2 separate regions of the Homo sapiens genome follow, and region 1 is linked to region 2. The links come from fine-mapping of genetic effects on gene expression. A gene starts in region 2. The other region holds a variant in brackets. All regions are shown on one strand. Distances are between the middles of the regions. Region 1 overlaps PRKCZ (protein kinase C zeta). Region 2 holds the start of PRKCZ (protein kinase C zeta).

Region 1 (5,354 bases), 63 kb after region 2:
GGATGTCCAGTGTCTCCCAGTCTGGGCAAGCGGAGGAGCCGGCCAGCATGGGCCATTTCATCGGGGCCCTCCCTGGGGGCAGCCAAGGACCTAAAACCAATGGGTCCCAACCAAGAGGATCCCAGAGGTGAGACACAGAACGGCCAGGGCTGAATCCGGGGCCCTCCCTGGGGGCAGCCAAGGACCTAAAACCAATGGGTCCCAACCAAGAGGATCCCAGAGGTGAGACACAGAACGGCCAGGGCTGAATCCGGGGCCCTCCCTGGGGGCAGCCAAGGACCTAAAACCAATGGGTCCCAACCAAGAGGATCCCAGAGGTGAGAAACAGAACGGCCAGGGCTGAATCTGCCTCCAGCGGGGGCCCCGGGCGTGATCAGAGCAGGCAGGACCTTTCTTCCCTCTCTGCAGCTCCGGCACTGGCTTCCTCCGTTCAGGCTTCATCCCCGGTCAGGGGGCTCCTGGTCCCGTGGCAGCCCCGTGGCTCCTGGGTCGCAGCTTCATGGGGGAAACAGAGACTCCTCTGGTACCAGGGTCCCCTGAATCTCCGGAGTCCCCCAAGTCCATTGAGTCCACTGGGCCCGAAGAGGGAAACAGAGACTCCTCTGGTACGAAGGTCCCCCAAGTCCCTGGAGTCCCCTGAGTCCACTGGGCCCTCGACACCCTTGGGTCACTTGTCCACCCTCACACCATCGCTGGCCCAGGGAATGGGGGTTTGGATCGGCCTTGGTGACTGTGGGCCTCTGCCTGAAACCCTGTGAGTGTGGGTGGGGTGGGCTGGGTCCTGAGAGAGCTGGGAGCAGCGGAGTGAAGGGGGCTGGGGTGGGGCTGGTGACAGTGGAGTCCCTGTGGGGGGCAGGGCTGGTGGACAGTAGAGTCCCTGTAGGGGCTGGTGACAGTGGACTCTGTGGGGCCAGGGTGGGGCTGGTGGACGGTGTAGTTCCTGAGAGACCGAGCCGGAAGGTGAGGGACTGGAAGCTTGCACACGTCCCTGCGGCCTTCCCCTCGGGTGCGAGGCCTGCCATCCTGAGCTCCCCCACCCTACCCCGTGCCCGCCCTGAGGGCGGGACCCAGGCCAGTTCACACAGCATGGCGAGGTAAGGGCTCAGGATGGAAGGCAGGAGGAAAGTTGGGCCTGCTGCACCCATGGGTATTGCGGCAGGGAAGGCGAGGAGGAGCCGAGGTGGGTGCTGGGAGCTGTGGGGCTGGCTGTGCGTGTTGGGCCTAACTCGGGCTGAGCTGAGGTTACTGAGCCCTCAGGAGGGTGCTGTGGGAAAAGAAAGAGGCAGAGAAGGTGTCTTTGGACCACTTAGGGGACGGGGAGGGAACCCCACGGCAACTGTGAAGGTCTGGGGCACAGCCAGGGAGGGTCCCAGGTTGACAGGGACAGGCGGGGTGGGGGTGCAACATGGAGGCCTGGGGCTGAGCCTCCGAGAAGTGATGGGCAGGATGAGGGGGCCAGAGGGGATCACGCAACAAGGGGTGCACCTTGGTGGTCTGGGTGTCTCCAGAGAAGCTGGTTGTCAGGACTCAAGAGGCGGACAGGGAGGGGCTGGGGTTAGGGAAGAGTGTGTGGCAGGGGGAGGAAGGGAGCCTGCTTGCCGGGTCACCTGGCATTGGGAGCTGTCCCCTGCCTGCTGCGCCCCGCCTGCCATTGTTGGAGTTCTCCAGTCTGGGCTGGTCTGGATGAGGAACTGGCGGGGCTGCTGCCGGCCTGGACTCAGGACCCTCACCCTCCAGCCCGCACCCTCGACTCCCCACCAGCCAGACCCTCTGTCCTGGTGTGGACAGCACCCACATCCTGGCTCCACCCTTGTTTCTTGCCCTTTGACCTACAGCCTCAGGACGTGCAGGAGGGAGGTACGTAGGCACTTGTGGGTCCGGCCTCCTGACCGACCGTCCATCCACCACCAGGCTTCTGGATGTTCACCCATGTGGGAGAGACGGGTGTCGGGGAAGGGACCACAGCTTCCTTTCAGAAGACCCGGGAAGGGCAGTGCCGTGTGCCAGCCTCCCAGTTGGCACCTTCCTTTCACCTTAGTCGTCTTCGAGGCGATGTTTCCTCGGGACAAGTCATTTTCATGAATCTGCTGTAAAACGTCTCCCAAACTCCAAGTGTTTCCCAAACTGAGTGAAAATCGCTGCAGAATGTGGTTTCCAGCAGAGCTTTTCCCCTCTCCTTCCTTCACCTCTGCCTGGGTTACAGGGTGCGGGTTCCAGGAGTCTGCCTAGAAGGCAAAAAACAGGCTTTGCTTAGAATCCCCTAAATTGCTCATAAAACACAGTGTTTGACGTTTATGTGTAGACATGATCCTTATGTGGGTTAAGCTGAGGCCCCTGCCCCAGTGACACAGAGGCCTCAAACGGCACAGTGCACCTTCTGTCCGAAGCAGCCGGCGAGGCGGCCCGCGAACCTCTGACGTGCTCCATTGCAATGAGGATGAACGAGCCTCAGGCGGAGGGTCAGCCTGGAACCCCTGCCCCGTGAACACCAGCCAGCTTCATGCTGAGGACCCCTCAGTCCAACCCAGAGGCCCATGCTGAGGTCCCGGCATGGGGGACTGTGGGGTGCAGCCGCCGCTTGGAG[C/T]GGAGGTGAATGGGACCCCACACGTTTCCTCCTCCTTCTCTGGATGCCTGTAATCATCACAGTACTCAAAAAAGGAAGAAGAAAAAGGTCCTTGAAACTTGCTGGAGTTGCAGTTCCGTTTTTTTGTTTGTTTGGTTGGTTGGTTGGTTTTTTTTTTTTTTGGAGACAGAGTCTTGCTCTTGTCGCCCAGGCTGGAGTGCAGTGGCGTGATCTCGGCTCACTGTAACCTCCACCTCCTGGGTTCAAGGGATTTTCCTGCCTCAGCCTCCCAAATAGCTGGGACTACAGGAGCTCGCCACCATGTCTGGCTATTTTTTTTCTATATTTGGTAGAGGCGGGGTTTCACCGTGTTGGCCAGGCTGGTCTCGAACTCCTGACCTCAGGCGATCCGCCTGCCTTGGCCTCCCAAAGTGCTGGGATTACAGGCTTGAGCCACTGCGCCCGGCCCCATTTTCTTTACATTTGTGACTTACAGTCATCAGCTGAAGGAAAGACAGTGGCTTGGCTAGGGCCTGCCCACTGCTGGCCGAGGCTGGCCGGGTCACCCAGGTGCCTGCCTCTCCTGCTCTGGAGCCGGGCACTGCCTGAGGGCCTGCAGCACCAGTCAGGGCCCCGGGGGATCCCTCCAGGGTCTCAGTTCTGACTAGCGAGTACCTCGATTCATGAGTATGTTTTTTAATGTAAGGTTTTAACGTAAGGTTTAAAAAGGCAGCCGCCCCGTTTCCTCCCCACTGGTCTCGCCTTCAGCAGTGATTTGTGGTGACTGTGACGTTCTCTTCGGTGGGCTGCCTGTGGATCGCCAAGTATGTGCTCCTGCTGCTTCTACCTGATGTCTCCCCATCTTGGGCTTTGAGGGGGGCTCATCCGGGGCATTCATATTTTCTGCCCGAGTTCGCTCCTGACCCAGGGCAGGTGGAAGCCAGCAGGTGAGGACCAGGGTGTCAGCCAGAAACTCGGAAGTGGCACAGAGGCAGCATCCGATAGCCCCTTTGTCAGAGGCGACCAGGGCCTTGAGTGAGCTGGGATGGACTTCTCTTATCCTGACATCCTGGAAGGGGGTGCAGCCTGCCTGTCTGTGTCCCAGTTGAGTTGGCAACATTTTTTGTCTTTCCTCATGATGCACGAAGTAGTGGTATCTCTGAGAGCCAATGGCAGCCTAGCTGCCGTGGAGAATGCTGGGGGGTGGGTGAGAGTTGGGGCACAGAGGACTCATGGGGCAGAGGCTGTGGTCCAGTCCTTGTGGGGGTGACTCCAGGGATGGCAGGTGGGTGGTGTGGCCAAGGAGGAGGGAGGTCAAGGCACTGGTGTTGGGGCAGGGAGAAGGGACCGCAGTGCCCATGTGTTTGAGGGAGGGGAGATGATGGTGTGGGAGTGTAGAGAGGGCGGGGGCCCAGCCCACAGCATCCATGCCCTGGGGATTGGGTGCCACCGGTCAAGGGCTCCACGGGGCTGGCTCTGGGGGAGGGAGAGCGGGCGCCATGTTGTGTGTGTGGTGCGTGTGGCGCGTGGGTGAGGGTATGGCCGGCTGCGTAAGTTTGTGGAAGCGTTCGGAATGCTCAGGAGATAAAAACAGCAGAGGGCTGCACCCCCCCACCCTCCCACCCCAGCTTTTCTCCAGGAGGACGCTCCGTCGTGGCCTGGGAGGACGTGGAAGGAGGGACCCCGGATGCAGGGCAGGTTCGTCTTGTGTGTTGAGAACGTGCTCTCCAGGGATCTGTGTTAATACAGGTAGCCCAAGCACAGTGTCCAATGAGGGAAGGAACATTTGAAACAGAAGAGATGACTTATTTTGTTGGACAAAAAAGGAATATGGTGGACATTAATTCTTAGAAGAGGTTTTATTTGAAACAAGTCACAAAAATAATCAAACAGCAGGTTGACTTTGGAGTTCAGCTCACAAAAGTTAAGCTTACAGAGCAAATAAAATAAGCTGAAGAAAAAGATAAGATGACTGGGCGCAGTGGCTCACGCCTGTAATCCCAGCACTTTGGGAGGCCGAGGCGGGTAGATCACGAGGTCAGGAGTTTGAGACCATCCTGGCTAACACGGTGAAATCCAGTCTCTACTAAAAATACAAAAATTAGCCGAGTGTGGTGGTGGACACCTGTAGTCCCAGCTGCTCGGGAGGCTGAGGCAGGAGAATCGCTTGAACCCGGGAGGTGGAGGTGGCAGTGGGCCGAGATCGTGCCACTGCACTCCAGCCTGGTGACAGAGCGAGACTCCGTCTCAAAAAAAAAAGAAAAAGAAAAAGAAAAAGCTAAGATGCAGCAGGTGGAGCCGCCTGCCGTTGGGTTTCAGCTTTTCTTATGGAAAGAATGTTACGGCCTGGGTGCCTCCATTCTCTGATTTCTTTTTCTTTCTTGACTTTTTAAAATTGAAACAAAACTCCCTAAAACATGAAATCTGAAGCGTTCAACTCCACGAGTTTTTACAAAGCAAACTGCACCGCGTCACATAGCTGATCCGTGTGTAGCTTGTCCTCTGGACGCGGGGCCACCCCCACACCCCGAGGTGACCCCAGGCGTAACCTACCCGTCCCCGGCCTTGGTGCCTGCAGATAGTTTTGCTTGTTTCGAGCTTTTGTCTTGGGATCCGGGGCCATCCACCCTGGGTGTGGCCGCTCAGTCGGGCCCCTGTGTGGGGCTTTCCCGTGGTGTGGGGTGCGGTTCTGCCGTGTCCGTCCCCACTGCGGGGCTGCTCTGCTGGCTGAATTCTCCACGTCTTATGTATCCACCCTCATCTTGCGAGGCACCGGGGTCCCGGCTTTTGG
Region 2 (5,354 bases):
CCGGGCGACACAGTGACACCACCGCCAGCCAGTGAGCCTATCCGTGTCTCAGGAAGCGCCCTCTGCCCTCAGGGCCCTCTCAGGGGCACAGGCTCAGGGCAGAGGACCTAGGAACCTCCCTGTGACCTGCCCTGCCTGCCCAGAGGCGGGTCCAGGGCCTCCCAGGCCTTTGTTTTGCAGATCTCATTAGCGGAGACCTCTGCCTCCTGGAGGGGAGGCCAGAGCAGGTACTGGGGGAGGTTTTGGGGACGTTTTGGGCAGCCCCTGTGCCCGCAGTCCTCTGCTAGAGCCTTTCGGAACCTGTGTCTGTCCCGACCCCCCCTCCACCGGCGGCATCAGGGCTGAACAAAGTCTGACACTGGGGTTGACCATCCACTGACGTTGCCCTCTCCCTCCCAACCCCAGAGAGAATAGAGCCCCGCCCCCCACCTTCCCTCGCTGGGACTGGGGCACTGCCACGGCCCTGGGACTGGCTTCCAGGACGGAGGCTCCCGCCTGGCAGCACAGATCTCCCCAGGGAGGCCAGTGCCGAGGGCCTGACCCAGCAGGGGCGTCCTTGGTTAGAAAGGGTCCTCCGGGGCCTTGGGTGGGGCAGGCCCAGGGAGAGATGTCCAGTGACAGGGAAGGACACAACCGAGGGTCCGTCCTGCCTGCTGTGGGCAGTGGTATCAAGGACCGGGCCTTGCTGCCTCCTTGGATCAGAACGCCAGCCAGGAAGTCCTGTGGGTGCCCAGTGGCCCCTTCCAGGCACCGCCCCACTAAGGTGAAACCCTGCTCTTTCCTGCCCATCAGGAAGCGCCCAGGCCATGTTGCCAGGCCAGACTCCAGACAAGGCCACAGCCCTGGCCATGGGGCCTGGAGTGGGGGAGCTGGGCCGACGGGTGCCTGAATCCAGGGCTGCTGCAGGTGCAGGTTCCCACTCATCACTGTACCCTGCCAGGCTGCCCCCTCACCCTCTACTCTCTGCCCCCCTTCATGCCCAGCTGATGGGCATGGGGCTTTGTGCCTGTGCGAGGGATAGAGGGGGTTGCCCCATGGAGATGGGGGTGAGGAGTAGATTGCTGAAATGGGCATTAGGTATGCTAGAGACTTCAAGGAAGTGTGGGTGCCAGTCCAGCAGATCTCTGCAGGCAGGTGCTCCTGGAAGAGGGAGTGGCTGTGCAAAGAGGGAGTGGCCGTGCAAAGACGGAGGCCGGGGCAGCAAAGAGGCCTCGAGGCCGGGGCAGAGGAGCTGGCCTTCCCTCCAGGAGTGATGGGAACCACTGGGGGGACTTCGATGACCCAGAAAGATGGAGTGGGGGAAGACGTCAGCTGAGAGGCTCATTAGGAGGATGCCTGGGGCTGGGTGAGTGTTGGTTGGGAGCTCAGGGGGCCCATCTGAGCTGGGGATGCAAAGCGGGCCAAAGGCTGAGGCTGGGGCTCCACAGTTTTAAAAGCTGCAGACCAGGAGGGCGAGGGATGGGAGATTTAGGGAGCTGGAACCCGGGGCCAGGGATGTGTGAGCCTTCCCAGGAGGGGTCTGATACCAAAGGCCAAGTTAAGAAAATGTCTGAGGCCGGGCACAGTGGCTCACGCCTGTAATCCCAGCACTTTGGGAAGCCAAGGCAGGTGGATCACCTGAGGTCAGGAGTTCGAGACCAGCCTGGCCAATATGGAAAAACCCCGTCTCTACTAAAAATACAAAAATCAGCTGGGCATGGTGGTGGACACCTGTAATCCCAGCTACTTGGGAGACTGAGGCAGGAGAATGGTTTGAACCCAGGAGGCAGAAGTTGCAGTGAGCCGACATCATGCCATTGCACTCAGCCTGGGCAGCAAGAGCGAAACTCCATCTCAAAAAAAAGAAAAAGAAAGAAAAAAAGAGAAAACGTCTGAGAACCGACGGCTTGTATTTAAAACGTGTGAGTGGGTGGTGGCAGGAGAGGTAGACAGGGAGCAGGGCCGGCTTGGCGGAAGCTTTGCTGTAGAGAGGGGCAGAGATGGCTCGGTGGGTGGAGGGAGGGGCAAACGGTGTTTAAGAAGAAAAAACGACAGCTTCTGCGTAGGAGAGGGGCCTCCTGTCCATCTCCAGGGAGAACATGGGTTCTGTGGCCACAGGTCTCCCCAGGGCCTGGCATCAAGGAGGCGCCAGGCACGACCTGCGGGATGAAAGCACGTGGCTGAAGTCCTGGTGGCTGTGTCTGGGTGAGGGGTGTGAGGGCGTGGCCTGAGCAGGTCCACTCTCAGGGGAGAGGGGCCGAGGCCAGGAACTGGGTCTGGGTGTCCACCTGGTGCCTGGGTGAGGTCCTGCAGGCAGCAGGTCTGGGCTTCAGTGGATGCAGCCAGTAAGGGATGGGCTGATCAGGGAAAACCGTATTTTCAGGGGAGGAGCCCAGGAGGCAGGGAGCTGGGCGGCGGTGGAGGGGCCTGGAGGGCGATTGTCCAGATCAAGCCCCTCGAGTAAGGCCCGAGAGGCTGTGGCTTCAGAAATGAAGGTCATGGGCGACTCGGGCCAATGCCGCGTCCTTGACCTGGGCGAAGTGAGCGGTTGCACTCACGAGTGTGGACGGCCCTTCCCTACAGGGGACCTTGGATTCGCTGGGGGCGGAGTGGGGGCTGGGGCCCAGAGAACCCGAGTCCGGACGCTCCCGTCCGTGACCCTGGCCGGGTTCTCCGCTCCTCGCAGCTTCAGTCCGCAAGTGTGAGATGTCAGGGGACCCCTGGACGGCGGGGCCCTCGGGCTGGCAGCGCGCGCCGCAGGAGTTTCGATTCGGAGGGTCTGGGCGAAGGCCGAGAACTCGCGTTTCCAGCGAGTTCCCGGGGGCGCCGCTCCGTCCCAGAGGCCGGGGCCCCTCCGGTTGCCGGGCAGAGCCGCGCCGCGCGCGGTCCCATTGGCGCAGGTGCGCCGCGCCCCGCCCAACAGGTAGCCCCGCCCGACAGGTAGCCCCGCCCGCGCCTCGCCATTGGGCCGCGGCCGGGTGTCCCCCGAGGATTGGCCCAGGTGGCGGCCCCGCCTCGCCCTCATTGGCCGCAGGTGCCACCGCCCGCCCCGGGACCGCCCGCCCCGCGGATTGGCCGCTGGCTCCACCTCGGTCCGCCATGTTCGGACACCGCCCCCCGCCCCCGCCGGACGGTCCCGCCCCGCGCGCCCCCCGCTCCCGCCCCGCGCGCCGCCGGAGTTCCGCGGAGTTGACCGGGTCGGCGCCGTCGGTCCTGAGCGCTGCCTTCCGCGTTCCGCCGCGGCCCCACCTGGAGCCCCCGCCCCGCGCCATGGCCGGAGCTCCCGGGGCGCAGCGCTGACGGCGGCGGGGGGAGCGCGCCATGCCCAGCAGGACCGGCCCCAAGATGGAAGGGAGCGGCGGCCGCGTCCGCCTCAAGGCGCATTACGGGGGGTGAGCGGCGGAGAGGGCGGGGAGCGGCGCGGGTGAGGCAGGGAGGGCGGGGAGGGCTCAGCCGTCGGGGCTCCTGCGCGAGAGGGAGAGAGGGAAGGGGCGGCGAGGTCGCTGCGGGCCCGGGGCTGTCGCGGGAGGTCCTCGGTCCCCGCCCGTGAGCGTCACCCGCGGACACGTCGTGGACAGCGCGGGCTCCTTCCCCGGGACCGGGTTTCCCTGGGGTCGGCCCCGCGCCGCGAGCTCCTCGGCCCGGTCATTGTGGTAGACGTTTTCGCTGGAAAGTTGGGCGGGGACGTTCCGGCCGCAAACCTGTAAGGACTGAAAGTTTTCATCAAGTTGTGAAAACTCCTGGCGGGTTTCTTAAAATCAGCGTTTCCTAAACGTTCTCCACGTTTACCCGGTCGGGGGTCTCGCTTTAGCCAAAATCCGGAGACCCGGGGCGCGGGCGCTGTGGCTCCAATGCAGCCCCCGGCAGGGCTCGGGGCGGTCGGGCGGGGACAGGGGTTTCTGGAGGAGACGGTGGGGCCGAGACTGACCCTGGGGTTTGCGTCGCACCCGCCCCCCGGAGGCCCTTGCCTGGCTGTGGGAGGGGGCGCGGTCAGGTGCTGGAGCGGAGGGGTCCTGGACTCTTGGCCGCCGCCTCGGGGCAGCGCTGCTGGGGGTGGCGGGGGCTGCACCAGGTGGCCGGGCTCACAGGCACAGCGGAGGGGTCGCTGCCCCCCGAAGTGTGGGCGGTGGGGAGGGGAGGACCCGTGGGTTTGTTCTTCCACCTGTGCGCGTCTCCAGGAGCCCCGAACTGGGACCTCCGCTCCCGCGAGGGTGGCTGCTGCTGCAGAGAGGGAGGGGAGCAGAATGCGGGCTCCGGACTTGCACTGGCTGGTCCTTGGGATCTCGAAAAGCTGCTCCTGCCCCGGTGCGTCCTCAGCTACAGCGTGGGCAACCTGAGCCCCAGAGGCAGGGACGGCCGGCAGGGTTAGGCGGGTGACAACTTCCCCGGGCCACGTCCTCTCAGGACAGTGCCCCGGGGGTCTCTATGGTGCCCTGCGAGTCTGAGCGGGTTCAGCTTCCTGCGAACCTTGTCTTGGGGTCTCGGGTCAGCCATCTGGGGCTGCTTGGCCCCGGGTTTGTTGAGGAGGCTCAATTGTCTCTTCTTTGGGAAGGTTGGGGCCTCTGCAGCTCCCCTGTGGCAAGCACCTGGAACCTTCGGGGTGCAGTGGCCCGGGTTTGGTGCCAGAACCAGAAGAAAGGGATTTCTGGGGGACTGACCGTCCAGCCCTACCTGAAGAGGTAGGGCAGCCATGTCTTTTGGCCTGGAGGTCAGCAGGTTAAAACTTGGTATGGTTGACGTTCTGGCTATTGGACTTGTCCAGGGACCTGGGCTTCCTGTCTCCTTGCCATTCTGGAGCCACCACACTGGGCAACAGGTGATGGTGCGGAGCTCAGGGGAGTCCTGCGAGAGGGAGGTCCACACCCGAGGGGCTGCAGGGGCCCAGACCCTCCTGCATTCCGGCGTCCAATTCCTGGGACCAAGGCTCGGAGGCAATGCCACTGGAGTTCTGGGCCGCCCCGTCCTCCCTCTGCCTTGCTTTGGCCCCTGGGAGCACTTTGGTGGTGGGGCGGGTGTAATTCCACCCGGTGACTCTGGTTTCCCAGGCTGGAGAGACCAGGCTCCCACCCCTTCCTCTTCCCTCCCTTCCCGGACTCTCTCCCCTCTCTCCCCACCCCTTCCTCTTCCTCCCTCCTTCCCTGTTGTTTTCCCTCCTCTTCCCGCTCTCCCCTCTCTCCCTTCCCTGCCACACCTCTTCCTTCACCTTCCTCCCCCTTCTAGGGCACGTCTCCCCTCTGGCTCTTCCCTGCTCCTACCATTCCTTCTCTCCTCTCTCCCCTCCCAGGTCCTCCTCCTCTCTGCTGCAGAGTGTGAAGTACCCTTCTCCCCGTTCTGGCTCCTCGTCCCTCTGGGCACCCGGTGCCTCTCTGAGGGGA

The links.
Region 1: its variant is fine-mapped to the expression of PRKCZ in whole blood (TOPMed, PIP 0.98).

Annotation. Positions count from the first base shown.
Region 1 is chr1:2,109,961-2,115,314 of GRCh38, forward strand. All of the region lies in intron 4 of PRKCZ (protein kinase C zeta), which reads left to right. Among named protein-coding and RNA genes, the nearest start is that of PRKCZ, 62 kb to the left of the region's middle. RefSeq lists an enhancer at 2,538-2,587. The variant C/T (reference allele first, on the strand shown) is at 2,585.
Region 2 is chr1:2,047,331-2,052,684 of GRCh38, forward strand. PRKCZ (protein kinase C zeta) reads left to right here and starts at 3,081. Exons shown (of 18, transcript NM_002744.6): 1 at 3,081-3,371. The coding sequence starts at 3,301. It overlaps PRKCZ-DT (PRKCZ divergent transcript), which reads right to left and starts at 2,740. Exons shown (of 3, transcript NR_135509.1): 1 at 2,538-2,740; 2 at 2,268-2,336; 3 at 1,871-2,138. It overlaps LOC105378590 (a long non-coding RNA gene), which reads right to left and starts at 117. Exons shown (of 4, transcript XR_007065357.1): 1 at 1-117. RefSeq lists an enhancer at 1-723 and a silencer at 2,659-3,268.